Linked DNA regions of Homo sapiens: region 1 is linked to region 2. The links come from fine-mapping of genetic effects on gene expression. A gene starts in region 2. The other region holds a variant in brackets. All regions are shown on one strand. Distances are from middle to middle.

Evidence for each region.
Region 1: its variant is fine-mapped to the expression of COPS3 in whole blood (INTERVAL, PIP 0.94).

Annotation. Positions count from the first base shown.
Region 1 is chr17:17,240,805-17,256,088 of GRCh38, reverse strand. It overlaps COPS3 (COP9 signalosome subunit 3), which reads left to right. Exons shown (of 12, transcript NM_003653.4): 9 at 1,144-1,230; 10 at 7,050-7,163; 11 at 8,529-8,609; 12 at 8,938-9,473. The coding sequence ends at 8,991. It also overlaps the pseudogene ACTG1P24. Among named protein-coding and RNA genes, the nearest start is that of FLCN, 11 kb to the right of the region's middle. RefSeq lists a silencer at 4,797-4,899. The variant G/A (reference allele first, on the strand shown) is at 11,778.
Region 2 is chr17:17,273,341-17,289,834 of GRCh38, reverse strand. It overlaps COPS3 (COP9 signalosome subunit 3), which reads left to right and starts at 8,589. Exons shown (of 12, transcript NM_003653.4): 1 at 8,589-8,703; 2 at 13,671-13,800. The coding sequence starts at 8,649. RefSeq lists enhancers at 8,392-8,491, 9,142-9,201 and a silencer at 8,712-8,951.

The DNA.
Region 1 (15,284 bases), 33 kb after region 2:
TCCTGCCTCAGCCTCCCAAGTAGCTGGGACTACAAGTGCCCACCACCACGCCCGGCTAATTTTTTTTTTTTTTTTGTATTTTTAGTAGAGACAGGGTTTCACCACGTTAGCCAGGATGGTCTCGATGTCCTGACCTCGTGATCCACTCGCCTGGGCCTCCCAAAGTGCTGAGATTACAGGCATGAGCCACCGTGCCCAGCCTATCAGTTATTTATTTATTTATTTATTTATTTATTTATTTATTTATTTTGAGATGGAGTCTCACTCTGTTGCCCAGGCTGGAGTGAATCACGCGATCTCGGCTTGCTGCAACCTCCACCTCCCAAGTTTAAGCGATTATCCTGCCTCAGCCTCCTGAGCAGCTGGGATTACAGGTGCCTGCCACCATGCCTGGCAAATTTTTGCGTTTTTAGTAGAGGTGGAGTTTCATCATGTTGGCCAGGCTGGTCTGGAACTCTTGACCTCAATTGATCCACCCACCTCGGCCTCCCAAAGTGGTGGGATTACAGGTGTGAGCCACCACCCCTCGCCCATCAGTTTTAAGTCATCTACACAAATCTATTCTGTACATCAATGGGAAGAGCTCTGTACACTTTTTTTTTTGAAATAGAGTCTTGCTCTGTCGTCCAGGCTGGAGAGCAGTGGCGCAGTCTCAGCTCACTGCAACCTCCACCTCCTGGGTTCAAGCAATTCTCTGATTCTCTTGTCTCAGCCTCCCAAGTAGCTGGGACTACAGACGCATGCCACCACGCCTGGCTAATTCTTTTTTTGTTTTTTGTTTTTTGTTTTGAGACAGAGTCTCACTTTGTCACCCAGGCTGGAGTTCAGTGGCTCAGTCTCCACTCACTGCAACCTCCGCCTCCTGGGTTCAAGCGATTCTCCTGTCTCAGCCTCCCAAGTAGCTGGGACTACAGGCGTGCACCACCATACCAGCTAATTTTCTGTATTTTTAGTAGAGACAGGGTTTCACCATGTTAGCCAAGATGGTCTCAATCTCCTGGCCTCATGATCTGCCCACCTCAGCCTCCCAAAGTGCTGGGATTACAGACATGAGCCACCACGCCTGGCCGCTCTGTACACATTTAATAAAATGTCCTTCCTTCGTTGTTCCTACCTGTGACTAATTCTGCTTCTGACTTTCAGACCTTTTTAACTCTATCATTACAAGATATGGCAAGTCGTGTGCAGTTGTCTGGACCTCAGGAGGCAGAGAAATACGTTCTGCACATGGTAAGTGGATTTTCTTTTTCTTTTTCTTTTTTTTTTTTTTTTTTCTTTTTGAGATGGAGTCTCGCTCTGTCACCAGGCTGGAGTGTAGTGGCACAGTCTTGGCTCACTGCAACCTCCACCTCCCGGATTCAAGTGATTCTCTTGCCTCAGCCTCCCGAGAGCTGGGACTACAGGCATGCGCCACCATGCCCGGCTAAATTTTTGTATTTTTAGTAGAGATGGGGTTTCACCATGTTGGTCAGGCTGGTCTCAAACTCCTGACCACGTGATCTGCCCGCCTCGGGCTCCCAAAGTGCTGGGATTATAGGCATGAGCCACCGTGCCTGGCCTTGATTTTCATTTTTTTGAAAATTAATTACTGGATTTTTGTTACTGTAAGAGTAACAGATGTTCATTGTGGAAAATATTAAAAAGGAGAAAAGCGGGGGGAGCCTCCAAAGTCTACCACTATTGACAATTTGGTCTGTTTCCTTATAGTTTCTAGTTTTAGTGTGCTCATATGATATACACATCAGGCTTGCGTCCTATTTGTGCTTCCTTTTTTTTTTTTTTTGAGATGGCTTCATCTTGTTGCCCAGGCTGGTGTGCAGTGGTGCAATCTCGGCTCACTGCAGCCTCAATTCCCTGGGTTTAAGTAATCCACCCACCTCAGCCTCCCAAGTAGCTGGGACTACAGGCATGTATGTGTCACCATGCCTGACTAATTTTTGTATTTTTTTGAAGAGATGGGGTTTCTCCATGTTGCCCAGGCTGGATTTGAACTCCTAGGCTCAATCTGCCCTCCTAGGCCTCCCAAATTGTTGGGATTACATACGTGAGCCACTGTGCCCAGCCCTGTACTCCTTATTATTTTCTTTTATTTTATTTTGAGGCGGACTCTCGCTTTGTTGCCCAGGCTGGAGTGCAGTGGTGTGATCTTAGCTCACTGCAACCCCCACCTCCAGGGTTCAAACAATTCTCCTGTCTCAGCCTCCCGAGTAGCTGGTATTACAGGCGGCTATATTTACATATTTTCATTATCAGAATTTTTGTAAACCTCATAACCCTCATGAAATATTTTTGGTATACAAAGAGGTATAAGGTAGGGCTACTTCCTCTGCTTATCTGTGATGAGATCACAAGCTTTTGCCAGTACGTACATCAAGCAACTGCTGCAGCAAGAAATCTTGCTGAACAATGTTTGCTGAACTACACAGTGTGCTTAGCGACATCATTGACTGACATTCTGACTTAGCCTCTTCCGTCACTGAGGGTTTTGGTCCATAAGCAGCACTGACATAAAGGAGGCCAGAGCACACACCCAGGACTTAGCATCCAGCTTAGGAAATGAAATAGCACCAGTGCCCTGACACTCCCTCTTTATCACCTGCCAGTTGCATTTCCCCACTCTCAGCCCCACCCCAACCAGGCAACCACTCCTGATTTGGATAAGCATCATTTAAATGACTATATGATAACCCACCACATTGATGTATTGTAATCTACCTACCTATTCAGTTACATAAGTACATAGTTCTGATCTGGTTTTAGTTCACTGAAAACCTGTGTCCTTAGCTCAGGACAGGCAAAGCTTCATATGACCCCTTGTATGATTTCAGAATTTGGAGTATTTTGATTGATTGATTGATTGATTGAGACAAGGTCTTCCTGTGTTGCCCAGGCTGGAGTGCAGTGGCGTAATCATGGCTCACTGCAGCCTTGACTGCCTAGGCTTAAATGATCCTCTCACCTCAGCCTCCCAAGTAGCTGTGACTACAGATGTGTGCCACCACACCCAGCTAATTTTTAAATTTTTTGTACAGGCAGGGTCTCTTTATGTTGGCCAGGCATAACTTGAGATTTCTGGCCTCAAGTGACCTTCCCACCTTGGCCTCCCAAAGTGCTGGGATTACAGCTGGATACAGCCACTGCACCCAGCTGAGTATTTCATTTTGATAGTTGAATTTACAAGTGTTCTAAAGGGTTTTTTGCTTCAACCTACCATTCAAAACATGCACACACCAAACAAAACCATACCTCTATGACTTGTGTCTGCTAAGAGCATCTTGGTAACCCCACAGGGGTTACACAGAATAAGCTATAGACGCTTTCCCCAAGAAATTCCCTCTTCAGTGGCGAGTGAGAAGAAATACATGAGTGGTTATGACACCAGACAGGACATACTAGCTAGCAACGCGTTGCGGGGTCAAAGTGGGTGTGAGTTTTGAGCCCTGCTTAACCAGCCCAGACACCCTGACAGGCTCTGGAGCAGTGGTTCTCCTCTGAGGGTGATTTTGTCTGCCAGGAGACATTAGGCAACGTCTGGAAGCAGTTTTGGTTTTCACAGATGGGGGTGCTACTGGCGTCTAATGGGTACGGGCCAGGGATGCTGCTAAACGTCCTGCAGTGCCCAGGACAGCCCACACACCAAAGCGTTATCTGTACCCAGGACAGCCCACACACCAAAGCGTTATCTGTACCCAGGACAGCCCACACACCAAAGCGTTATCTGTACCCTGGACAGCCCACACACCAAAGCGTTATCTGCCCCCAAATGTCAGGACTGCCAGGCTTGAGAAACCCTTCTGGAATGAAAGGTCTGTGAGACCAGGGTTTTTTTTTGTTTGTTTGTTTTTTAAAGTAAACATTGGAAAAGTACACTTAAGTGTACGGCTAAACACATTTTCACAAAGATTCCAACACCTAGAAGAAGGAACAGAATATGACCAGCACCCGGAAAATATCCCTTGTGTCTGCTTCCAGCCCTGTGCCTCTCTAGAAAGGTTGTTCCCATCCTGACTTTTTTTTTTTGAGACGGAGTCTTGCTCTGTCACCCAGGCTGGAGTGCAGTGGTGCGATCTCAGCTCACTGCAAGCTCCACCTCCCAGGTTCACGCCATTCTCCTGCCTCAGCCTCCCGAGTAGCTGGGACTACAGGCGCCCACCACTACGCCTGGCTAATTTTTTGTATTTTTAGTAGAGACGGGGTTTCACCATGTTAGCCAGGATGGTCTTGATCTCCTGACCTCGGCCTCCCAAAGTGCTGGGATTACAGGCATGAGCCACCGTGCCCGGCCTCCCATCCTGACTTCTAACATCCTATTTTAGTTCTGTTTGTTTCTGAGTTTGATGTAGAAGGAAACACACAGCACATTCTTTCTGGGAATCTGGTTTTTTGGCTCAGCATTGTGAGAGTCATGCATGATGCTGTATGTAGCCGTAGTTCATTCGTTTTCAGGGCTACAATGTTCCAGTGTTTGATACACCTTTCCATTTTAATTAGTTGGACAGGCTGGGCGTGGTGCCTGTAATCTCAGCACTTTGGGAGGCTGAGGCAGGCAGCTCACCTGAGGTCAGGAGTTCAAGACCAGCCTGGCCAACATGGTGAAACCCCGTCTCTACTAAAAATACAAAAAAAATTAGCTAGGCATGATGGCGGGCGCCTGTAATCCCAGCTACTTGGGAGGCTGAGGCTGGAGAATCGCTCAAACCCAGGAGGCGGAGGTTGCAGTGACTGGAGATCACACCATTGCACTCCAGCCTGGGTGACAAGAGCGAAACTCCGTCTCCAAAAAAATAAATAAATAGGCCGGGTATGGTGGCTCACACCTGTAATTCCAGCACTTTGGGAGGCTGAGGCGGGCAGATCATGAGGTCAGGAGATCGAGAGCATCCTGGCTAACATAGTGAAACCCCGTCTCTACTAAAAGTACAAAAAATTAGCCAGGCGTGGTGGCAGATGCCTGTAGTCCCAGCTACTCGGGAGGCTGAGGCAGGAGAATGGCATGAACCTGGGAGGTGGAGCTTGCAGTGAGCTGAGATTGCGCCACTGCACTCCAGCCTGGGCAACAGTGCAAGACTCTTGTCTCAAATAATGTAAATAAATAAATAGTTAGACATTGGGGTTGTTTCCAGTTCTGGTTAATTTATTATGAATAGTGCTGCTGTGGTGAAGGTAGGTCCAAATTTTGCTTAGATACATTCCATCTGCTTAAAGAGGCAGCTCTCTGTGATCACATAGAGAACTATGCATTTTGTATAATATGTATTGGGCTGGTTACTGTTTCACTAAATAGCATCTATCCCTTCCAAAGCTAGAGACAAGTAGGCCAGCAGTTTCACTGCTAACAAATGGACAAGTTATTATCACCGTGTGGAACATCTTGTTAGGAATAAAATACCTGTTTTGTACTTTTATTGGTATCTCACTTTTTAACTTCATGGGCAGGATTTGGCTTTGAGGATCAGTCAAATAATTCCCCAGTAACTGATGCAAATAAATAATATATAGACCTTGAATCTACCTTGGAATCCCCAGTGGTAGTAAAGTTTTCTTGAAGAATCGGAAGATAGTTTCCACTGGGATGAAAAGAAAACGTGTTAGGCTTTACTTTTTAAAATACAGTGGCCCAGCCTGGCCAACATGGCAAAACGTCATCTCTACTAAAAATAAAAAAAATTAGCTGGGCATCGTGGCACATACCTGTAGTCCCAGCTACTTAGGAGGCCGAGGCAGGAGAATCCCCTGAACCCAGGAGGTGGAGGTTGCAGTGAGCAGAGATCAAGCCACTGCACTCCAGCCTGGGCAACAGAGCGAGACCCCATCTCAAAAAAAAAAAAAAAAAAGGCGATGTAAGTTATATTTCAGTGCAGCTGATGTTGAAAAATGCAAGGGCACCTCAAATACATCATGCTAAGGGAAGCCAGACCACAAAAGATTACATAGTATATGATTCCATTCATATATCCAGAAAAGGCAAATCCATACGAGACAAGAACAGATTGGTGGTTTCCAGGGGCTGGGAGGAGAAGGAGGGAATGGGGAGGGACTGCTAATGGGCCTAGGGCCTCTTTCTGGGGTGACGAAAATGCTCCAGAACTAGATAGAGATGGTGGTGGCACAACATTGTAGAATGCATTAAATGCCAATTAATTGCTCACTTTAAAAAGGTAGGCCAGATGTGGTGGCCCATGCCTGTAATCCCAGCATTTTGGGAGGCCGAGGCAGGTAGATCACTTGAGGTTAAGAGTTCGAAACCAGCCTGGCCAACATGGTGAAACCCCGTGTTTATTAAAAATACAAAAAAATGGCTGGGCGCGGTGGCTTACGCCTGTAATCCCAGCACTTTGGGAAGCCGAGGCGGATGGCTCACCTAAAGTCGGGAGTTGGAGACCAGCCTGACCAACATGGAGAAACCCTGTCTCTACTAAAAATACAAAATTAGCCAGGCGTGGTGGTGCATGCCTGTAATGCTAGCTACTTAGGAGGCTGAAGCAGGAGAATTGCTTGAACTCAGGAGGCGGAGGTTGCAGTGAGCCGAGATTGTGCCATTACACTCCAGCCTGGGCAACAAGAGCGAAACGCCATCTCAAAAAAAACAACAAAAAAATTAGCCTGGTGTGGTGGCGGGCACCTGTAATCCCAGTTACTTGGGAGGCTGAGGCAGGAGAATTGCTTGAACCCCGGAGGTAGAGGTTGCAGTGAGCCAAGAACGCACCACTGCACTCCAGCCTGGGGGACAGCGAGACTCCATCTCAAATAAATAAATAAATAAATAAATAAAATGGTTAATTATGTTGTGTGGACTTCACCTCAATAACAAAAATGCAAGGGCAGGGATTTTGTGTGTATCAGTTTTACACCTCTTAGCATCTATAATGGTGCCTAGCAAATAGTAGGTATTTAATAAATACTTGGATAAACAGATGGCGCTTAAAAATATACAAGTTTATTTATATCCATGTTGCCTTCCATGCTTTTCTGTGATTATACTGGATGACTATTCATATAGCATTCAGGTCTAAACTGCTTTCCTGATTTTTTTTTTTTTCTTTCTGCAGATAGAAGATGGTGAGATTTTTGCAAGTATTAACCAGAAGGACGGTATGGTCAGTTTCCATGATAACCCTGAAAAATATAATAACCCAGCCATGCTTCATAACATTGATCAGGAGGTAAACATGAATGCCAGGTTTTTATTTTTTTAATTGATGGTTGAGATGTATTTGAAAATTGCTCCTATGTTCCAGGATAATTTTAGTTTTAAGTACAGGTAGTTCCCAGTCTGTGAACATCTTAGTTACTAGAAAGTTAGTTTCAAAATGGGCTGCTTAAGGAGAATTGCTTGAACCCTGGAGACGGGTTACAGTGAGCCGAGATTGTGCCACTGTCCTCCACCTTGGGTGACAGAGCAAGACTCTGTCTCAAGAAAAGCAGCAACAACAACAAAAGAAACCCAGAATGGGCTGCTTAAAACTCTTCCAGGCTGGGTGTGGTGGCTCATGCCTGTAATCCCAACACTTTGGGAGGCTGAAGTGGGTGGATCAGCTGAGGTCAGGAGTTCAAGACCAGCCTGCCCAACATGGCAAAACCCCGTCTCTACTAAAAAAAATAAAAAATCAGCCGGGTGTGGTGGTGCACGCCTGTAATCCCAGCTACTCTGGAGGCTGAGGCAGGAAAGTCTCTTAGAACCTGGGAGGCAGATGTTACAGTAAGCTGAGATTGCGCCACTGCACTCCAGCCTGGGCAACAGAGGGAGACTCTGTCTCAAAAAAACAAAACTCTCTCAGATTGTATGGCTGTAAATAAATGGTGGGTTAGATATCCCAGCTAACTCATCAAAACCTCCCTTAACTGTGAAAACACTTAAAGGGCCCAGTATAACTTTATCTATTCCCAGCTGCCACCTACAACATAGAGCCTTATGTTTTTGCTGAAATGTCTGTGGAGTTCCAGGTTGGGAGGTTAGGAAACATCTCTCCCTATGTGAGAAGCAGAGTCGGGGTGGCTGGAGGAGAAGAGCAAAGCCCTCCCTGACGGTCCCCTTTAGGCAACAGCCTGGCTACAGCTGCAGCAGTCACCTCTGTGTCTCCTGAGGGCATGCTGCCTCTGATTCTGGGGGCTGAAGGGGGAGTTTTGTGGGTGGTCTGTGTTTCTTACCTCTGAGCAGGGAAGTGAACTGAATATTAAATCTCAGAAAACTATGTTTTTTTGTAATTAATTTAATGGCAAAATGTCACCTGAAATGGTGTCTAGTCTTCATTTATCTCAGCATGAATATACTCGTTTCACTGCAAAAGATACTATGTGTTTGATTATGAGGTTTGCCTAGATCCTGCTGGGTGGGATATTTGGTATTATATGATAGATGTATTAGCTTTCTGAGTCCAAAATACTCTGGCTCCAAAACCCATGTGGCCCCAGGGGTTTCACATCAAGAGATTGTGAACCTATAGCACCCTTGTGAACAGTGTAAGTTAGAAAGGATGCAGCTGACCTAAACCCGCCGCTGACCACCTTCTAATGTGCCTGTCATGCAGATGCTGAAGTGCATTGAGCTGGATGAGCGGCTGAAAGCCATGGACCAGGAGATCACAGTGAACCCTCAGTTTGTACAAAAGGTGATGAGGGTTCCCTTATTACAAGAAGTAGGCTGGGTGGAGAAGGAGGGGTGTTGTCACATCAGGCACAGGAACTAAGTTTCAGGTTATTAAATATTTCTTGAAAACCTTACCAGTACGGTCATGGAGAAATACTAGTTGAGAGCATTTTCAAATGATGGCCTGGAAGTACACTTAGGGATGCTTAGGGTGGTTCCTGGAATTGCCTGCCCTTGTTCACAGGGGGCTTTGTTCTGGGAGGGACAGGGCAACTGGTGTGCTTATTGGGCTGCCGGGGAACCCTTGATAAAAGCAAACATAAATACATAACTTCACTTTACCTTTACAGAGTATGGGCTCACAAGAAGATGATTCAGGAAACAAACCATCCAGTTATTCTTGAAACTAACATCCATCCTGAGCTAAACAAGAGAAACTACCATCTTGGCCAGTGACAAGTGTTCGGAGGGCAGCAGAGAGGACCAAGCCTGTGTCACCTGGAGACTAAGAAATTAAGTTTTGTTTTGACATCTTCAGTCCTGTGTGCTTTCAGAAAACCATTTTCTCTGCAAAGAAAGGAAACAGATTTGCAAACTTTAAAGTCTGTCGTGGATTTATTTATCCTCAGATTATTGTTACTGCATTAAATCTACCTTTTTGTTTTAAGTTGCTTGAACATTAATGTGTCTTCTGTATCACTTTTTTCTCCTCTGAAGTTTTTAATAAGCACATTCATTGTGAACAGAAATAGCTGGATTTTAGGAATTTTTGGAAGATTTGGATCTGAAAGGTTTTTATTTATTGACAAATTTGTATCTACAAAAAAATCTAAAAGTTGTAATCATTGTCTTCAGAAAATAAAAGAAAAGAAAGGCCAGACAGACACAGTGGCTCACACCTGTAATATCCTAGCACTTTGGGAGGCCGAGGCAGGATTGCTTGAGGCCAGGAATTCAGACCACCTTGGCCAACATAGTGAGACCCTGTCTCTGTTTACAAAAAAAAAAAAGGGTAGGAGCGTCCCTGAGGCATAAGCTAATTTTTAAAATTAAAATTAACATGCATATTAGTGAGAGTATGAGTTGTGGATTATGAGATGCCATTGGTGCTTCACTTTTTTTTCTTTTTTTTTTTAAGAGACAGGGTCTCTGTCACCCAGGCTGCAGTGCAATGGTGCCATCATGGCTTACCTAAACTTCCCAGGCTCAGCTGATTCTCCTACCTCAGCTTCCTAAGTAGCTGGGACTACAGGCGAGCACCACCACAGCCAGCCTTTTTTTTTTTTTTTTTTTTTTGTAGAGATGGGGTTTTGCCATGTTGTCCAGGTGGTGTCAAAAGCACTTTCCAACCTTTAGTGGGTGCTACACTTTTGTAGTCTTGAAAATGGCTTTTCTCCCCCTCTCAACTTACAGTTTTTAAGAGACAAATGGCAGGCTTTCCCACTTTTTCTTGTCAAAGCATATCAGGTAAACTGATAGTTGCATTTTGATTATGTTCAGGGCCTCTCCTGTCACAGGAATTTGGACTAGGATTTACTGATTTAGCCCTGGAATGGTGTGGAGCAGAATAAAGTGTGGTCAGGTTAAAACACATCAAATTTGTTCCTTAAAAAAATCTCTCTCACTACAAACATTCAGTTTTTAAAATGTTTCAAGTTGTCTGGTAAGGCACATTTTCATTATTTAAAAAAGAAACCTCAGCTGTGTGCAGTGGCTTACGCCTGTAATCCCAGCACTTTGGGAGGCCAAGGCAGGTGATCACCTGGGTCAGTAGTTTGAGACCAGCCTGGGCAATATGGTGAAACACCATCTCTACTAAAAATACAAAAAATGAGCCGGGCATGGTGGTGGGTGCCCGTAATTTCAGCTACTCAGGAGGCTGAGGCAGGAGAATCGCTTGAACCCGGGAGGTGGAGGTTGCAGTGAGCCAAGATCATGCCACTGCAATCCAGCCTGGGTGACAAGAGCAAGACTCTATTAAAAAAAAAAGAAAAGAAAAGAAACCTCATGAGTCACATAAAAAGTTACCCTAATAGAGTCCACACTTAGGCTTTGGAGGTCATATGGCCTATTGTAACTGTGGCCATTTTAGTAGTAAAACTTTATTTATAAAAAGTAGGCAGTGGCCAGGCATGGTGGCTCATGCCTGTAATCCCAGCACTTTGGGAGGCCAAGGCGGGTGGATCACCTGAGGTCAGGAGTTTGAGACCAGCATGACCAACATGGTGAAACAGTCTCTACTAAAAATACAAACATTAGCTGGGTGTGGTGGCAGGCGCCTGTAATCTCAGCTACTCAGGAGGCTGAGACAGGAGAATCGCTTGAACCCGGGAGGTGGAGGTTGTGGTGAGCCAAGATCATGCCATTGCACTCCAGCCTGGGCGACAACAGCAAAACTCCATCTCAAAAAAAAAAAAAAAAAAAAAAGGTAGGCAGCAGGCTAGGTCTGACCTGAAGCCTATAGTTTGCTGACCTATCAACTAAACTGTCAAATTCTCTAGCCCTTGAATTAGGACTATTTGTGGGTTGCATCCCTTTCACTTGTTTACGTATACCTGCACTTAGGAAACAAAATATTTAATGGGAAATGATCATTTATCTGTGTAATGAATTATAGACCCTGTTTTATTTTTAAAAAACAATTAGCTTCTCATTATCTGGATCTGAAATCAAAATCACTTAGAATGTGTCTGTGAACTGCTAGTACTTGTCAGTCGTGACTATATAAGTGAAAAGTACTGTGAGCTGCTAATGATGTGGATGCTATTATAATTTTTTACCCAAGGTGGATTCATTAAAATAACTGCATTTTTTGGAAACTTGAACTGAAAGGGGATATGTTATTTAGAACCTTGTCCTAGTACCTGCAAACCCTGAGTCTGTTTGAGGGGAGAGCTGGTCACAATCGTTTCAGCTTTGAATCCCCTGTTCTGTGTTCTGCTTTGTGATTCTTGGGCTAGACCTCTGCAAACCAGCAAGAAGGGGATTAGAGCTCGGGGGAGAAAGTGACAGGCTCCCTGCATCTGCCTCTGTTGAGCAGCATGGTCCAGGCAAGTCTGCTTCCAGTGTGCAGTTTCCCCCATGCTCCTAGAATCAGCCTCAGCACAGCCCCTTAGAGATAAAGGGGCCCAGGAGGCAGGCCTCCCCCATCTTCCCACTGTGCCCTCCTTCAGAATTTTAAATTCTATTC[G/A]TCCCAATCTTTTCCCTTTGTTCCCCAACCCTTAAGGGGTGGTATCTGCTCACTGTAGCTACTACCTCAGTGAGACTCCTGAATTTTTTTTTTTGAGATGGAGTCTCCTCTGTAGCCCAGGGTGGAGTGAAGTGGTGTGATCTCAGCTCACTGCAACCTCCACCTCCTGGTTTAAGCAATTCTCCTGCCTCAGCCTCCCTAGTAGCTGGGATTACAGGCACCCACCACCACGTCTAGCTAACTTTTGCATTTTACTAGAGACAGGGTTTTGCCATGTTGGCCTGGCCAGGCTCAAACTCCTGACCTCAAGCAATCCACCCACCTTGGCCTCCCAAAGTGCTGGGCTCACAGGCGTTAAGCCACCGCACCCAGCCGATTTTTTTTGTTTCTTTTACAGCAGTACTTTTATTTTTCCTTACACAATGACGTGTTGCTGGGGCCTGATGTTCTCACATAACAGTAAAAAAACAAAATGTGTTGTCATCTCAAAGAATTGAGAATTGAGTACAAGAAAACCCTACATAAATTAAAGGGATGAATACATTTACAGGTGGAAATACGAACTGCTTCCAACTCAAGACAAGTAGCAGCTCATGGTGTTCTGGCATGAAAACATCAGCTAAGAGAGGAAACTTGGTCCTATGGCTTGGACTTTTCCAACCCTGATAGACCGGCAAGACAGAAACAATTGGTTCAGGAGCCCTTACCAGGCTCTACAGCAGAACACTCTGCCCTGACACATTAATACACTGCACAGATCGGAGACTGCTGGCCACACAGACTCACCAAACCACTGACCTGTCTTCCACAAGCCAGTTCTTACCTCAGCCACGAAGTGACCAAGCCACACGTACTAAGGGTTGAAATCAAAGATGTATAGGGCATTACACAAATACCAAGGAGAACAGTTAACTTGAATACAAGGTCAAAATCAGCAACAAGTTTTACAATCCAGTGCTGATATCAGATACAAACCTTAAGGACAAACTTCTTTCAAAGGCTTATTCCAGTTTCGTGAGGCTAGTATGAGGTGTATGCATTTGCCAGGGGCAAATTTTTTTTTTTCTTTTGAGACGGAGTTTCGCTCTGTTGCCCAGGCTGGAGTGCAGTGGCACAATCTTGTCTCACTGCAAGCTCCACCTCTCAGGTTCACACCATTCTTCTGCCTCAGCCTCCCGAGTAGCTGGGACTACAGGCACCCTCTACCACGCCCGGCTAATTTTTTTGTATTTTTAGTAGAGATGGGGTTTCACCGTGCTAGCCAGGATGGTCTTGATCTCCTGACCTTGTGATCTGCCCACCTCGGCCTCCCAAAGTGCTGGGATTACAGGCGTGAGCCACCACGCCCGGCCTCCAAGGGCAAATTTATACTCTGGAATTAACCCATGCAGTAAATGCTACTCATCGGCTCACAGTCCGTTTAAAAGCGTTTGTGGTGGATGATGGAGGGGCCTGACTCATCTTACTCCTGCTTGCTGATCCACATCTGCTGGAAGGTAGACAGTGAGGCCAGGATGGAACTGCCGATCCACACTGAGTACCTGTGCTTGGGGCGGGGCACAATGATCTTGATCTTCGTGGTGCTGGGCACCAGGGCAGTGATCTCCTTCTGCATCCTGTCAGGATGCCCCAGTACATGGTGGTGCCGCCAGACAGCACGTGTTGGCATATAAGTCTTTGCAGATGTCCACATCACACTTCATGATGGAGTTGAAGGTGGTCTTGTGGATGCTGCAACATTCCATGCCCAGGAAGGAAGGCTGGAACAGTGCCTCCAGACACTGGAACTGCTTGTTGCCAATGGCGATGACCTGGCCATGGGCACCTCACAGCTATTCTCCAGGGAGGAGGAGGATGCGGCGGTGGCCATCTCCTGCTCGAAGGGCAACACAGCTTCTCCTTGTCATGCATGATCTCCCACTCGGCCGTGGTGATCAAGCTGTAGCCAAGCTTGGTGAGGATTTTCATGGGGTAGTCAGGTCCTGGCCAGCCAGGTCGACACAGGATGCCATGGGGGAGGGTATAGCCCTTGTAGATGGGCACCATGTGGGTGACCCCATCTCCAGAGTCCAGGACAATGCCAGTGGTGTGCCCAGAGGTGTAGAGGGACAGCATGGCCTGGATGGCCACGTACATGGCCCAGGTGTTAAAGGTCTCAAACATGATCTGAGTTATCTTCTCTCTGTTGACCTTGGGGTTCAGGGGGGCCTTGGTCAGCAGCACTAGGTGCTCCTCTGGGGCCACGTGCAGCTCACTGCAGAAGGTGTGGTGCCAGATCTTCTCCATGTCATCTGTATTAGTCCATTTTTGCACTGCTGATAAAGACACACCTGAGACTGGACAATTTACAAAAGAAAGAGGCCTAATGGACTTACAGTTCCAGGTGGCTGGGGAGGCCTCACAGTCATGGTGGGAGGCAAGTCACGTCTTACACGAATGGCAGCAGGCAAAGAGAGAGAGAGCTTGTGCAGGGAAACTCCCATTTTAAAAACCGTCAGATCGGCCAGGCACGGTGGCTCACGCCTGTAATCCCAGGACTTTGTTTGGGAGGCCGATGCAGGCAGATCATGACGTCAGGAAATCGAAACCATCCTAGCTAACATGGTAAAACCCTGTCTCTACTAAAAATATGAAAAATTAGCCAGGCGTAGTGGCACCTGCCTGTAGTCCCAGCTACTCGGGAGGCTGAGGCAGAAGAATCACTTGAATCCCGGAGGCGGAGCTTGCAGTGAGCCAAGATCGCACCACTGCGCTCCAGCCTGGGTGACAGAGCGAGACTCCATCTCAAAAAAAACAAAACAAAAAACACAAAACAAAATATGAAGTTTTGGGTTTGTAAGTCCTAAGTTTCTGGGTTCCAACCTGAATTGGTACCCACTTTGTGGAAGGTTATGTTATTTGGACCTAAGTCTGAGCAGTTGCAAAGGGGCCAGAGAAAATAAATGACTAGGTAAATCAGGTATCTGTGAATAAGAAAATGTGATGGCTATCTTTTTAAGTAACTGAATTACTTAATGATAGTGAACAAAGAAAATCCTATCTGTATCCTTTCCTAACATCAAAGGCTGAAATCAGAGAACTTTAATTGCAAAAAGCATTTAATAAGTCTGAATCCATAGGCTGGCTCTATAGTTGATTGTTAGACGAAAATGTCAACACATGGTATTTAATAGGCACCTAGTAGTAGATTAAAACACAAAAGGCATAGCAGATGAATTCTAATTAGTGGAGAGAGGTTAATTTTTAAAAGCTTACAGAAATTGCTATGGTAAGAAATATTAAATTAATCCTAATGGCCTTTATTGAACCACTAATAACTCATACCTCGCAACTGACTGGATGCCTTATGTGCAGAGTTGATTGTCTAATTACCTAAAACCTGAACTTAGAAACTGTGCATGGGCTAGGCTGGGCGCAGTGGCTCACGCCTGTAATCCCAGCACTTTGGGAGGCCGAGGCAGGCAGATCGAGAGCATCCTGGCTAACACAGTGAAACCCCGTCTCTAC
Region 2 (16,494 bases):
GTGGCTGTATTGTAGGAAATGATTACAAGATTGTGGGGTGCGTCCTTGTCTGTCGTCCTCTCACCCCACACAGTCAATAGGCCCTACCACATCAAAATGTGTCACGTTTTATCAACAGCTGCTATGAAGGGTTGCTACTGTCCCATGGACTGAAATTGAATACTTTTCCTATCCTCATGTTTCCTAGTCGCCCAATACATATAGTGAATAAAAGCTCAGGACCTGGAGGCCAGGCAGGGTGGCTCACATCTGTAATCCCAGCACTTTGGGAGGCTGAGGTGGGTGCATCACTTGAGGTCAGGTGTTCAAGAACAGTCTGCTCATGAGCTGAGATGGTGCCACAGCACTCCAGCCTGGGCGACAGAGTGAGACTATGTCTAAAACGAACAAACAAACAAACAAAAAAAACTCAGGGCCTGAAGTCAGACAGATATAAGTTTTAATCCTAGTGCTGCCAGTACCTGGCTGTGTATCTTTGGCCAAATCCCTTAATCTTTCTGAGCATCAGTTTCTGAAGGATGGGAGATAAACATTGTGTCAGATGACAGGCTAGGTTATGTTGCAATACCAATGCCAAAATCTCAGTGCCTTAACAATGGTTTATTTCCTACTCATTGTGGTAGGCGGCCTCTAAAATGGCTCCCAGAATCGCTTGAACCTGGGAGGCAGAGGTTGCAGTGAGCCAAGATTGTGCCACTGCACTCCAGCCTGGGTGATAGAGCAAGACTCAGTCTCAAAATAAAGAAATAGCTGGGCTCATGCCTGTAATCCTGGCACTTTGGGAGGCCAAGGCGGGCAGATCACCTGAGATCAGGAGTTCGAGACCAGCCTGACCAACATGGAGAAACCCCATCTCTACTAAAAATACAAAATTAGCCGGGAGTGGTGGCGCATGCCTGTAATCCCAGATACTCGGGAGGCTGAGACAAGAGAATCGCTTGAACCTGGGAGGCAGAGGTTGCGGTGAGCCGAGATCGCTCCATCGCACTCCAGCCTGGGCAACAAAAGCAAAAACTCTGTAAATAAATATGGTGGCTCACGCCTGTAATCCCAGCACTTTGGGAGGCCGAGGTGGGCGGATTATGAGGTCAGGCGATCGAGACCATCCTAGCTAATATGGTGAAACCCCGTCTCTACTAAAAATACAAAAAAAAAAAAAAAATTAGCCAGGCAGGGTGGCATGCACCTGTAGTCCCAGCTACTCAGGAAGCTAAGGCAGGAGAATCATTTGAACCCGGGAGGTGGAGGTTACAGTGAGCCGAGATTGTGCCACTGCACTCCAGCCTGGGTGACAGAGCGAGACACCATCTCAAAAATAAATAAATAAATAAACAAACAAAGAAAACAAAAAATAAGATAAAATGACTCCCAATAAACCCTGCCTCCTGACACGCTGTTGGAACATCCCTGCTCTTGAGTATCAGCTACACCTAGCAACTCACTTCTAATGGATACACTATGGCAAAAGGGATGGGACATTAATTCCAAGATTAGGTTACAAAAAGCCTATGACTTTAGCATTACTTCTCTTCCCTTTCCCATCCCCTTCAGCATCCTCCTCCCCCTCCCCCTCCCCCACTCCTCCCCTCTCCTATTTTCTCTTTCTCTGAGAATCCATCTGCCGTGTTCTGAGCTCCTTTATGGAGAAGCCCATGTGGCAAGCAACTGAGCAAGGCCCCTGGCCAATAGCCAGCAAGCAACTGAGGTCCTCAGTCAAGCAGCCTATGAGTAGCTGAATCATTCCAGCGACCATGTAAATGAACTTGGAAACAGACTATTTCCAGTGAGCTTTCTGATGAGACCACAGCCCTAGATAATACCCAATTGCTGTCTTGTGTGAGACCTTGAGGGAGAGGCAGCCAGCTAAGCCATGGCAGAATTCCTGAAACACAGAAATTGTGACATAATAACTGAGAAATAAAAAATGTTAAGCTTCTATGTTTGGGGGTAATTTGTTTTACTTTATATATATACATATAAAATAAAACAAATATATATATAGAATAAAACATGTATATATATACACAAATATATATAAAATAAAACACATATATATACACAAACAGACACACATACACATTTCCAGTGTGGGTTCAGAAGGGTGGTTGGTGGCTTGCCCATCCTATCCTGGTGCCCTGACACTTAAAGCTCCCACCCAAAAGTCAAACATGCCACTTCTACTTGTGTTTCAGTGGCCAAATAAAGTCACATAGTGATAACAAAATTCTAAGGGTGTGAAAGGAAAATAAATGGAATATTTGTGAAAAGCCTGGAGGATTCTACAATAGCACCTGCCTGGAAGGATTATTGTGGAGACAAGGCCTACAAACTGCTCTAGAGCCAGGCACGGTAATTCACACCTGTAATCCCAGCACTTTGGGAGGCGGAGGCAGGCAGATCACTTGAGGCCAGGAGTTTGAGACCAGCCTGGCCAAAATGGCAAAACTCTGTCTCTACTAAAAATACAAAAATTGGCTGGGCAGCTAGGCGCAGTGGCTCACGCCTGTAATCCCAGCACTTTGGGAAGTCCAAGGCGGGCGGATCACGAGGTCAGGAGATCGAGACCATCCTGGCTAACACGGTGAAACCCCGTTTCTACTAAAAATGCAAAAAAAATTAGCCGGGCTTGGTGGCGGGCGCCTGTAGTCCCAACTACTCGGGAGGCTGAGGCAGGAGAATGGCGTGAACCCAAGAGGCGGAGCTTGCAGTGAGCCGAGATCGCGCCACTGCACTCCAGCCTGGGCGACAGAACAAGCCTCCGTCTCAAAAAAAAAAAAAAAAAAAAAAAAAAAAATTGGCTGGGCATGGTGACTCACACCTGTAATCCCAGCACTTTGGGAGGCCGAGGTGGGCAGACTGACTGCAGTCAGGAGTTTGAGACCAGTCTGGCCAACATGGTGAAACCCCGTCTCTACTAAAAATAAAAAAAGAAATTAGCCAGGCATGGTGGTGTGTGCCTGTAATCCCAGCTACTTAGGAGGCTGAGGCAGGGGAATTGCTTGAACCAGGGAGGTGGAGGTTGCAGTGAGCCAAGATCGTGCCACTGCACTCCAGCCTGGGTGACAGAGCAAGACTCCATCTCAAAATAAATAAATAAATAAATAGAAATGGAGAATGTGGAAGGTGTTTACAACAGTGCCTGACACTGTTCCTGCCCCTCCCCAAGTGCTATCTACTATTCCTTTTTTACAAGTTATCACTTGAAAAAATTTGTAGACATTACTGAATCCGAAAATGTTTTGCATTTGAAAATCTGGACAAATCTGAGATTGCTATAGACAAGCATTTCTCAAGGGAGACATACCAGGATCCTCCTCACTCCCTATATTCTAGCTGCACTGGCATTTTTTTCTTTTCCTGAAACACACCAAGCTTGTTTGGATTTTAAGACCTTTGCCCACCATGCATATCCCTCTGTCTCCAACTCTGGCCCCACATCTCTCTTAACTGGCTCTTTCTCATCCTTGAGGGCTCAAAGAAGCATTTCCTGACCTTCCTATACCCCCATCGCCATGCTTTATTTTCTTCATAACACATATTACTATCCAAATTATGTATTTGCTTGCTTATTGTTTTACTCTCCAAACCAGAACTTCATGTGACCCGGGACATTCTGTCTTGTTCACAGACATATTCCCAGCATCTGGCAAAGCCTTGACACATATTTGATACAAAGTAAATGTGTGTTCAAAGAATAAAAGAACAAAAGATTAAATGTATCATATCCACCCACTGCTGAGCCATCCTTCCTTGTGAGGCATTCTCAAGTAATTGCCAGATTTTACAAAATTCTGGCTTAAAAAAAACTACAGGTGAGAGGGCTGGGCCCGGTGGCTTACGCCTGTAATACCAGCACTTTGGGAGGCTGAGGCAGGTGGATCACGAGGTCAGGAGATCGAGACCATCTTATCTAACACAGTGAAACCCCGTCTCTACTAAAAATACAAAAAAAAAAATTAGCCAGGCATGGTAGGGGGGACCTGTAGTCCCAGCTACTCGGGAGGCTGAGGCAGGAGAATGACATGAACCCAGGAGGCGGAGCTTGCAGTGAGCCCAGATTGCGCCACTGCACTCCAGCCTGGGCGACAGAACGAGACTCCATCTCAAAAGAAAAAAAAAATACGAGTTAGAGGCCAGGCACAGTGGCTCATCCCTGTAATTCCAGCACTTTGGGAGGCCGAGGTGGGCGGATCACCTGAGCTCAGGAGTTTGAGACCAGCCTGGCCAACATGGTGAAACCCCATCTCTACTAAAAATACAAAAATTAGCCAGGCATGGTGGCACACACCTGTAATCCCAGCTACTTGGGAGGCTGAGGCAGGAGAATCACTTGAACCTGGAAGGTAGAGATTGAGATGAGCCAAGATCACTCCACTGCACTCCAGCCTGGGTGACAGCGAGACTCTGTATAAAAAAACAAAACAAGGCCGGGCACGGTGGCTCACGCCTGTAATCCCAGCACTTTGGGAGGCCGAGGCAGGCAGATCATGAGGTCAGGAGATCGAGACCATCCTGGCTAACACGGTGAAACCCCGTCTCTAATAAAAATACAAAAAATTAGTCGAGTGTGGTGGCAGGCGCCTGTAGTCCCAGCTACTTGGGAGGCTGAGGCAGCAGGATGGCGTGAACCCGGGAGGCAGAGCTTGCAGTGAGCCAAGATAGCGCCACTGCAGTCCAGCCTGGGCGAAAGAGTGAGACTCCGTCTCAAAAAAAAAAAAAAAAAAAAAAAAAACAAGTTAGAATATATTCAGGTTTATCCCTATAATCACGTCTCTTTCAGTCATTTGTTTTTGAGAGGAAAGAGAAGGGTGGAATTTAGCTGTTTTGAATTTAGCTTTTAGCTGTTTTGAAATGTTATTTGCATGCTGGCTCATCTGGAGGCCACGGTCCAGATGCTCTCAGAATTTAGCACCATCAGAATTACCTGCAGGCTTGTTAAGCTCAGATTTCTGGAAATCACCGTTTTTTTTTTTTCGAGACAGGGTCTCACTCTCTCACCGAGACTGGAGCGCAGTGGCATGATTTCAGCTCACCACAACCCCCACCTCCCAGGCTCAAGCGATTCTCCTGCCTCAGACTCCCAAGTAGCTGGGATTACAGGTGTGCACCACTACCGCCTGGCTAATTTTTATATAGGCGTGAGGGTCCGTGCCCAGTTTCAGAGCTCTTGATATAGGAAGTCTACAGTGGGGTCCAAGAATGTGCATTTCCAAGAAGATCCCAAATGACGCTGACGCTGCTGATTGGTGGAGTCACAGTTTGAGAGCAGCTGCCACAACCTAAATAGGCAATAATAAATAAACAATCAAAGTATTATTAGTAGCTGTGGCTACTTTGAATTATTGTAGTGCTTTACTTATCTTCAACATTTTTGGCTTTCACCAAAATCCATGTATATCCATGGAAATGTGTCCCATAAGTCAAAATGTCTGTCTTGTGTGTTGCAAATGATCAAAGATTAAGGACCAATTGCTTCCATAGAACATTCAGGAGCATTTCCATCTTAGAGTACAAGTGCTACAGTCATTCATCTAAACATGTCTCAAGTTCACCAATTTATCCTGGTGAATTTATCTACACTTTCGAAAGAACTATTATTATTACTATTTATTTGAAAGAAACAGGGTCTTACTCTGTCACCCAGGCTGGGGTGCAGTGGCGAGATCATAGCTCATTGCAGCCTTAAATTCCTGGGCTTAAGTGGTCCTCCCACCTCTGCCTCCAGAGTAGCTGAGACAATAGGCATGCACCACCACAACCAGCTAGTTTTTAAAATTTTTTTTGTAGAGACAAAGTCACGCTGTGTTGTCTAGGCTGGTCTCGAACTCCTGGTAAGAGTAAAACTATTAGCATTCAAGGTATAATTATTTAAAGTATAATTATTACTATTCTATTTTATGTTGACTATTGCAATAGCTTCCTGTCTCCCAAGTTATCCATGTGAAGCCAGACAAATCTTTTTAAAATGCAATTTTTGTTGTTGTTGTTTTGTTTTTTGAAGTTGAGTCTCTTTTTATTGTCCAGTCTGGAGTGCAGTGGCCTGATCTCAGCTCACTGCAACCTCCACCTCCCTGGTTCAAGCGATTCTCCTGCCTCAGCTCCTGAGTAGCTGGGATTACAAGCACACGCCACCACACCCGGCTATTTTTTGTATTTTTACTAGAGACAGGATTTCATCTTTCTGGCCAGGCTGCTCTTGAACTCCTGACCTCGTGATCCACCCACCTCAGCCTCTCAAAGTGCTGGGATTACAGGCGTGAGCCACCACGCCCGGTCCTAAAACGCAAATTTGATCCTGCCACCGCTTGCATAAAACTCTCCAGTCCTCCCAATCTTCTCAGGAAAAAGTCCAGTACCTTTAACACAGCTTACATGACCTGGCCCCTGTCCACCTTACAAACTACTCCCCTCCAACCACAAGGACATTCTTTCAGTTCTTCATTCTCAACTAGCATGCTCCTTTCACTTGCAGGGTCTTAGCACCATACTGTCCTCTCACTCAGAAATATTCCTTCCCCCTTATCTTATTAACTCTTCCTCTTTCTTCGTTGCTCAGTTTATGCCATTTCCTCAAGAAAGCCTTCCCTGTTTCTCCCAAGCCAGGTCAATCTCCTCTGTGACATGATTTTATAGAACCATGTTCCATTCCTTCAGACCACTAACTCCTTTTATCTAGGGTCTTCATGTGTTGTCTGCAGGAGAGAAGGACCGAAACTGTTTTGTTTTGTTTTGTTTTGTTTGAGTCAGATTCTTGCTCTGTCGCCCATGCTGGAGTGCAGTGGTGCCATCTCGGCTCACTGCAACCTCCACTTCCCGGGTTCAAGAGGTTTTCCCATCTCAGCCTCCCGAGTAGTTGGGACTACAGGTACCCATCACCAAGCCCAGCTAATTTTTGTAGTATTTTTAGTAGAGATGGCTTTTCACCATGTTGGCCAGGCTGGTGTCCAACCCCTGACCTCAAGTGATCCACTTGCTTCAGTCTCCCAAAGTGCTGGATTACAAGCGTGAGAGACTGCACCAGGCCCCAAGACTGTTTTTACTACCACTGTATTTCTAGTGCCTGGTACAACACATTGTAAGTGTCAGTAAACATATGTTGGATAAAATTTTAAAATGCATGTTTATTTTCTCAGTCCCTACTATGCAGCAAATCCTATGCTGGGCCCTAAAGGGGAACCAAGGTTAGTAAGAGAAATGCTTGACCTTAAGGAACTCCATGCCAGTTAGAAGCAATGGATCCGTAAACCAAAAGTATCTGAGACCAGTCTCAATCGAGAAAGTTTATATTGCCAAGGTGAAGGATGCGATGATAACACGGCCTCAGGAGCTCCTCAGGACATGTGCCCAAGGTGCGGGTACAGTTTGGTTTTATACATTTTAGGGAGACATGAGTCATCGATCAATACATGTAAGATGTACGTTGGTTAGGATCGGAAAGACGGGCTAACTCGGGGCAGTGGGGGGCTTCTACCTTATAGGTAGACTTAAAGATTTTTTGATTGGTAATTGGTTGAAAGAGTTATTATCTAAAGACCTGGAAGTAAATAGAAAGAAATATCTGGGTTATGATTATAAGGGGTTGTGGAGACCAAGGTTTTATCATGCAGATGAGGCTTCCAGGTAGCCTGCTATTCAGACAGAATAGATTGTAAATATTTCTTATCAGTCTTGAGTCTACCAGTCTTAAGGTCTCTGTGTTGATGTTTGTGAGGCATGTCTGACTACCACTTCCCATCATGGCCTGAACTAGTTTTTCAGGATAAATTGGAATGTCCTTGGCTTCAGATAGGGTCCACCAGTCAGTTGGGGGGCTTAGACTTTTATTTTTGGTTTACAGATATCACATGGACTATAGAGACACATTTCTGTAACAGAGTAGAAGTGCAACATGAGAAGAACAAAGTGCTTTAGGCGACAAGCGGAGGAGGGAGACATCAATCCCAGATGGGAAAAATCAATTCACTTTCTGTGTGTGGTGTTACTTATTTATTTATTTTTTGCAGGGAAGGGATCGATTCATTCAACGTACACCTTGAATGAATAACTATAGTTCTCCCTACGTCCTATGCACTGTCCTAAGTGTTTTACGTGGTTAAGGACACTAAGATTTTACAGATGGGGAAAACAATGCACACGACAGTCAAGTGACCCGCTCAACGTCACACAGCTACTAAGTGGTAGAAAAGGCAGTTGAACCCAGGCTGCTTGGCTCCAGAGTCTAATATCACGGGGAAAACCTCACGGGAGACGTGGCAACGAAGTTGTGCTTCATTGAAGTATCTGTCCAGGTGGAAAACCGCAGGGCCTCTCTAGCAAAATCCAGAACCAGAAAATACTTGCTTAATTATGAGTTTCCTTCCTTCTTTTGCCCACTATCCCCATTTAACCTGCGGAGGGATTTCAGAAGTGCAGTGAATAAAGATGCAGGGGACTATGGAACACTAATTTCCGGCTACGGCGAATTCAGGCTGTTTCCATGGAAACAGTAACGGGTGGGCAGCTAGGTATAGTCTCGCGGTGCTTGAACCAGCGGAAGTGACGTCGCCGCTCGCGAGGACCTCAGGTGGATCGCCGCGGCCCCTCCTCCCAGAGCGGCAGCCTTTTCCCGCGCGTGCTGCCTTCGCCGCTCGGGCCGCCCGGGGGAAAACATGGCGTCTGCCCTGGAGCAGTTCGTGAACAGTGTCCGACAGCTCTCAGCTCAAGGTAACGCCCTAGGCCGCCGGGCTGGGCATGGGCGGGTACCGGGAACTGGCCTGGATCCCCAGGCGCCAGCACGGACGGCTGGAACAGCCCTTTTAGTCCTGAGACTCTTCTCCGGGGCCGGGCTTGGGGTTGCGGCGTTTAGATCAGGGCAGGATCGAGCGCGGCCGAGTGTAGGCAGCCCCCTCGCGCTCCGCTGTCCTCGCCGGCCGGCCTCCCCTCCCTCGGGCCGCCGGGAGCCCCCTCCCCCCGGCCTGGGCCCCTTCCACCGGGCGCTTTGCTTGACAGTTTGGGGGCGTGACTTCCGCCAGGAGCCATCTCGGGCGACTATTGGTTCCTTCTGTCTCTCTTGCCTTCGGTGATTGGCGCACCGCCATGTCATCTTTGCCGCCGATCCGCAGCTTGCTGACTAGGCCGCCGGGAGCGGGCGGGAGGCGAGTCCGTTCTGGGTGTCTTGGCTCTATGGCTCGCCTCTGCCAGCTCCTCCGCTGCCAGGCGGCGCACGCTCGGGAACCTGTGCGCCTATTTTGGTCCTACAGAATGCTGCGGAAGCTCTCGCTCGTAGGACTCCATTTCTTCTTCTTTGTTTTTTTTTAGCCGAGGCTGGAGTGCAGTGGCGCGATCTCGGCTCACTGCAACCTCAGCCTCCCGGCTTCAAGCGATTCTCCTGTCTCAGCCTCCCGAGTAGCTGAGATTACAGGCGCCCGCCAGCTCACACGGCTTTTTTTTTTTTTGAGACGGAGTCTCACTGTCTCCCAGGCTGGAGTGCAGTGGCGCGGTCTCGGCTCACCTCAACCTTCGCCTTCGAGGTTCAAGCGATTCTCCTGTCTCAGCCTCCCGAGTAGCTGGGATTACAGGCGCCTGCCCGGCTAATTTTTGTATTTTTAGTAGAGACAGGGTTTCACCATGTTGGCCTGGCTGGTCTCGAACCTTGATCTCAGGTGATCCACTGGCCTCGGCCTCCCAAAGTGCTGGGATTACAGGCATGAGCCACCGCGGCCAGCCCACGCGGCTAATTTTTTCGTATTTTTAATAGAGATGGGGTTTTTACCATGTTGGCCAAGCTGGTTTCGAACTCCTCACCTGAAGTGATCCGCCCACCTCGGCCTCCCAAAGTGCTAGGATTACAGGCGTGAGCCACTGCGCCCGGCCAGGACTCCATTTCTAGGGGTAGAATTGTGATGATTTTACTCGCACTTTCCAGGTTGTTTGGTTCATTCATTGCGTATGAATGTACCGAATTCTGGACCTGAAATTCGAATGATTAGATGCTGGCTGTGAAGGCCCTTTTAACTATCCCGTGCTTCAGTTTCTTCGTCTGCAAAATAAGTCCCTAGTTTATGTAGAGTTGTGAAGATTCAATGAGAGAAACCATGTAAAAGCAGTTGGAACAGTGCCTGTCATAAGGGGTGCAATAAATATAGCTGCAAATTATTGTTACCGTCATTAATTGCAAAGTTCTAGGAGCTGCTTGACCTTGGACAAATAACCTTTAATCTCTGAGTCTTTTGCATCTCCATTGTAAAAATGGAGGGGTGCTTTTACCTCACTGGTGTAAGACAAATGGTCTGATATGGAGCTGCACTTAATAAGAATTCTTCCTCTTTTTCCTTTTTATTAATAGAAATGAGGTTCACAGGGAAGGCACAGGCTTGCCTTTTCTATGAATAAAGGAACCACTGGTTTGTTAATTTATTCGACAAATACTTAGTGTTCTCCTTCCTGGGGTGTAGTGTAGTTAGAAGCTTCAGGTTGAAATCCTGTCGCGGTCACTTCTTGGGTGAACCACTTAATTTCCCTGGGCCAATTTTCTTAATTACAAAACAGAACTAGGGCTGTTGTGGTCTTCAGGTTATAGGATGCTATAGGAACAGTCTGCTAGACAGAGATAAATATGGTAACTTTCATTGCTGTCGGCTACTGTGCCTCACACTCACTGGATAGGAAATCTTTGAGTTTCAGGCCAGGCGCAGTGGCTCACTCCTGTAATTCCAGCACTTTGGGAGGCCGAGGCGGGCGGATCATCTGAGGTCAGGAGTTCAAGACCACCCTGGCCAACATGGTGAAACCCTGTCTCTACTAAAAATGCAAAATTAGCCAGGCATGGTGGCGGGCGCCTGTAATCTCAGCTACTCGGGAGGCTGAGGCAGGAGAATGGCATGAACCTGGGAGGTGGAGCTTGCAGTGAGCCAAGATCGCGCCACTGCCCTCCAGTCTGGGTGACAGAGCAAGACTCCGTCTCAAAAAAAAAAAAAAGAAAAAAAAGAATTTTATTGGCCACATCTCTGGTTACACTGATTTCAAATGCACTCTGTGACACTTAAACTTTTTTTTTTTACTCTGCCCTTGGCCCTGCACTAATTAATTATCTGGTGATTTCATAGTGACCCAGCTTTTATTTCAGTCTCAACTGGGCACTGATTGTTAACTAGTAGAGAACTAATGGATTGCAATGCTTATTTCTGGGTGTTACAAATTATTGTTAATATATTTAGAGTAATGGTTTACAAAGGCAAATTATTCAACTAGAAGTTACTTCATACCTACCAGTGAGATCTGTAATACAATGATGATGAGTTGGTATTTCCCAGTTAAATCTGTGTGATCTCAAGAGGTGACACCTAATAAGATCACAGCTGTTTTATTCTTGTTTTGTAATGCATGTATAATAATGATACATTTCCTTTGCTTTCAGTAAAATGTATCAAATTGAAAAGTGTTAAATTATCAAAAGTACCTAGCTATAGTCACTTGTATTTTAAGCATTATACTATGTTGTATTCTTTTAGTAAGGAAAAGATTATGCAGTTGCTCTGTAGAAATAGAGAAGTTGGAAACTTGAGGTTAATGCCCATGGACTTAAATATATCCTCACTGTTACCAGAAAGACAGAGTGTGACCATGGTATCTGTCATGACAGTAATTGTCAAAATTGATGGGTCTACTTAAAGGTACCAATTCAGGCCTAATTTTTTTTTTCCCCCGAAACGGAGTCTTGCTCTGTTGCCCAGGCTGGAGTACAGTGGCGCAATCTCAGCTCACTGCAGCCTCCATCTCCCGGGTTCAAGGATTGTCCCAGGTTAAAGGATTCTCCCACCTCAGCCTCCCGAGTAGCTGGGATTACAGGTGTGTGCCACCACACCCAGCTAATTTTTGTATTTTTAGTGGAGACAGGGTTTCACCATGTTGGCCAGCCTGGTCTTGAACTCCTGACCTCGAGATATCTGCCCACCTTATCCTCCCAAAGTGCTGGGATTACAGGTGTGAGCCAGCCTGGTCTTGAACTCCTGACCTCGAGAGATCTGCCCACCTTATCCTCCCAAAGTGCTGGGATTACAGGTGTGAGCCACAGCACCCGGCTGAGGCCTAATTATTAATAGATTCTGTACCTTAGTTGTTAAAATGTAGCATTGCAGGCTGAGTGTGGTGGCTCATGCCTCTAATCCCAGCACTTTGGGAGGCCAAGGTGGGAGGATTGCTTGAGCCCAGGAGTTAGAGACCAGACTGGGCAACATAGTGAGACCCCTGTCTCTGCAAAAAACTTAAAAAATAAGATGGGCATGGTGACGTACACCTGTAGTTCCAGCTACTCGGGAGGCTAAGGTGGGAGGATTGCTTGAGCCCAGGAGATGGAGGCTGCGTTGAGCTGTGATCACACCACTGCACTGCAGCCTGAGCGACAGAATGAGACCCTGTCTCAAAAAACAAAACAAAACAAACATAGTATTGCAGTATAGGGGAAAAATAGATCAATTAGGAGATTAATTCAACAAGTAGCTGCTTGATGAACTGCTAAGCAGGTGATGTATTCTAGAGCTGGAGAAAGGGACAATCCCTCCACCTGAGTTTACTGAAATACCTAACCACTACAGTCCCATGCGAGGCAGAGAGGGCAGATACCCAGCTTAGCCATGGGGAAGGGAGCTGAGATGAGGGTCTAGAGACGCCACAAGTTGATTGCTGAATGCTGGATGAGGCTCAGTCAGGTAGCAGAGGATGTGGGGGAGAAGGACAGAGAACAGCATGTGTAGAAGCATAAAGAGGAGAGAAGATAGAATGTTGATTTTCTGAGCTTGCTGTGATCGAAGAGTAGGTGTGTGAGGGGAAGTAGCAGGAGATAAGGCTGGAAAGGTAGCAGGGACCAGTTATTGAAGGGCCTTAGTTCAGGCTGAGGCGTTTGCACTTCTTAAAGTCATTGGAATAACTTGATTGAATGCACAGTTTATAGAACAGACAGTACTAATATGGAGTGCGGGTTGGAGGAGAGAAAGATCACAGTAGGCAGACCATTTAGAAGATTTATGATGTAGGCTGGGCGCGGTGGATCATGAGGTCAGGAGTTCAAGACCAGCCTGGCCAAGAAGGTGAAACCCCCGTCTCTACTAAAAATACAAAAAAATTAGCCAGGTGCAGTGGCAGGCGCCTGTAATCCCAGCTATTTGGGAGGCTGAGGCAGGAGAATTGCTTGAACTTGGAGGGCGGAGGTTGTAGTGAACCGAGATTGCGCCACTGCACTCCAGCCTGGGCGACACAGTGAAACTCCATCTTAAAAAAAAAAAAAAGATGTAGTCCAGACAAAAAATGATGAGGATCTGAATTAGGGCAGAGAGGGGAGAGAGAAAGAAATGGAGCTGAGAGACTTTGGAAGTAAAACTAAATCATTTGGATGCAGAGAGCTGTTAATAGTAACGTGCATTTCTGGCTTGGGAGACTAGAAAACAGAATAGAGAAAAAGGTGAAACATTCAGGGTCAGAGAGAAGTGGGAGGTCCAGTGTAATCTCTAATTCGTTTTGAGACCACGGACAGGTTGTTTCACTCCTCTGGTCCTTCTGGATCCTCATCCGAAGTGAAGGAGATTAAGAATCAATTTTGGGAACTTCAGGCTCTGAAGTACAAAGTTGTGGTTAGAGTTCCATCAGTTTGGTTAGTGCTGTAGCTGAAATGCAATAGTGTTGTTCCTGTTTTCCAGGGCAAATGACACAGCTTTGTGAACTGATCAACAAGAGTGGGGAACTCCTTGCGAAGAACTTATCCCATCTGGACACTGTGCTCGGGGCTCTGGATGTACAAGAACACTCCTTGGGCGTCCTTGCTGTTTTGTAAGGAGCATCTTCTTTTATAGTTCTGTGCTTGTTAAAATGGAACACTGTGCACTTCCTGGCTTTATTTTTATTTATTTATTTATATTTTTTGAGATGGAGTTTCGCTCTGTCACCCAGGCTGGAGTGCAGTGGCACATTCTTGGCACACTGCAAGCTCCGCCTCCCGGGTTCACTCCATTCTCTTGCCTCAGCCTCTTGAGTAGCTGGGACTACAGGCACTCGCCACCCGCCCCAGCTAATTTTTGTATTTTTAGTAGAGACAGGGTTTCACCATGTTAGCCAGGATGATCTCGATCTCCTGACCTCTTGGTCCGCCCACCTTGGCCTCCCAAAATGCTGGGATTACAGGCGTGAGCCACCACGCCCAGCCCTGGCTTTATTTTTATTTATTTATTTATTTTTTGGTGTAGAAAGTAAACCATTGTAAATAACATTGAGCTCTTTTGCAAAACTAAAGTTATGGCAGTTACAGTTTATTGATTCCAGCTAATAATTGCTTGTTATATTTTGTTCAACTTTATCATTTTTAAAAACTCTTTTATGTATCCGGGCATAAAGAGGTTGCAGTGAGCCAAGGTCGCGCCACTGTACTCTAGCCTGGGTGACAGAGCGAGACTGTCTCAAAAAAATAAAATCAGTTGTTGCAGCTGGGCACAGTGGCTCCCGCCTCTAATCCCAACATTTTGGGAGGCAGAGGCAGGTGGATCACTTGGGGCCAGGAGCTCCAGACCTGCCTGGCCAACTGGTGAAACCCTGTCTCTACTAATAAAAAAACTAGCCGGGTGTGTTGGCGCATGCCTGTAGTCCCAGCTACTCAGGTGGCTGAGGCATGAGAATTGCTTGAGCCTGGAAGGCAGAGGTTGCAGTGAGCCAAGATTGCACCACTGCACTCCAGCCTGGGCGACAGAGGGAGACTCTCTCAAAAAAAAAAAAAAAATCAGTTGTTGCTTTTCCTGCTTTGAGAACATACTAAGGGGGCCAAGAGTGAGAGCTATGGGCTGGCTGGAGGTGGGCAGCAGCTTAAGTTAAAGATGCTGCCACCAGCTGTGTGGTCTATCTGAGAATAACACTGACAGAACAACTGATAGGCAGGACAAGAGGAGTAGAGTGGTGAGAAGAGGGAGGACTCAGGTGATCCTTCCCAAGTAACTCAGACTGCCATGAGAAACACTCCAAGGAGGCACTGGTGATAGGTTTTAGGGGAGAAATCATGTAAACTTAGCACTATTAAGGCATTGGTTGTAAGTAAATTTCAAATTCTTTAAAAAAAAAAAAAAGCACGATTGAAATGTAATTTCAAGAAAAATTAGGCCAGACACAGTGGCTTACATCTGTAATCCCGGCACTTTGGGAGGCCAAGGCGGGTGGATCACAAGTTCAGGAGTTCAAGACCAGCCTGGCCAACATAGTGAGACCCTGTCTCTACTAAAAATACAAAAATTAGCCGGGTGTGGTGGCATGCACCTGTAGTCCCAGCTACTCGGGAGGCTGAGGCAGGAGAATGGCTTGAACCTGGGAGGCGGAGGTTGCAGTGAGCTGAGACAACGCCACTGCACTCCAGTCTGGGTGACAGAGTGTGAGACTCTGTCTCAAAAAAAAAAAAAAGAAAAGCTAATCATAATTTCTACTACATCTTTTGGTTTATCTGCTTCCATCTATACTGTATTATTTGACTTAACAATGTCACCATACATCTGTATTTACACTTTGTAATTATCAAGACATGTCAGAAACAATTTCATCTGGGGTTCACAATAGGTCAGTGAGGCATTGCGACTGCCAGTTTATAAATAAAAATATGAAGCTCAGGGCCCCACAACTCAAAATTGGAAGAATATGTAGATTCAAAACCAGGGTCCTCAGCCAGAAGCTCAGGGTTCTTTCCATACCTTATCTAACATATACAACGGTAAACACCTTATACCTTCAAAATGCATTCATGTCCATTACTCACCTGATATATATGTTTATGTGAGTTTATGTGTGTATAAAACATGCATGCTCTCTGTTCTTTCTTGAGATAGGGTCTTGATGTCACTCAGGCTGAAGTGCAGTGGTGCAAGCATAGCTCACTGTAGCCTCGACCTCCCAGGCTCAAGCAGTCCTCCCACTTTAGCCTCCTGGGTAGCTGGGACCACAGGCATGTGCCACCACACTCAGCTAACTTTTTTTCTTTTGGGGGGACAAGGTCTTGTTCTGTCACCCAGTCAGGAGTGCAGTGGCATGAGCACAGCTCACTGCAGCTTCAATCTCATGGACTCAAGTGATCTTCCAACCTCAGCCTCCTGAGTAGCCAGGACCACAGGTGTACACCACCACGCCCGCCTAATTTTTGTGTTTTTTTGTAAAGACAGGGTTTCATCACGTTTCCCAGGCTGGTCTTGAACTCCTGAGCTCAAGCAATCTGCCCATCTCAGCCTCCCAAAGTCCTGGGATTACAGGCATAAGCCACCATACCTGGCCACTTTTTTTTTCTGTAGAGATGGGGTCTTGCTATGTTTCCCAGGCTGGTCTCAAACAGAGCCTCCCAAAGTGCTAGGATTACAGGTGTGAGCCACTGTGCCCAGCATCTGCTCTTTCATATAAATAAGAAAATACAGACAGTAGAAATCCTTACCAGCACTGTCCAATAGAACTATCTGCAGTGGTGGAAATGTTACAAACCTGTGCTAAGACAAGGACATGTGACCA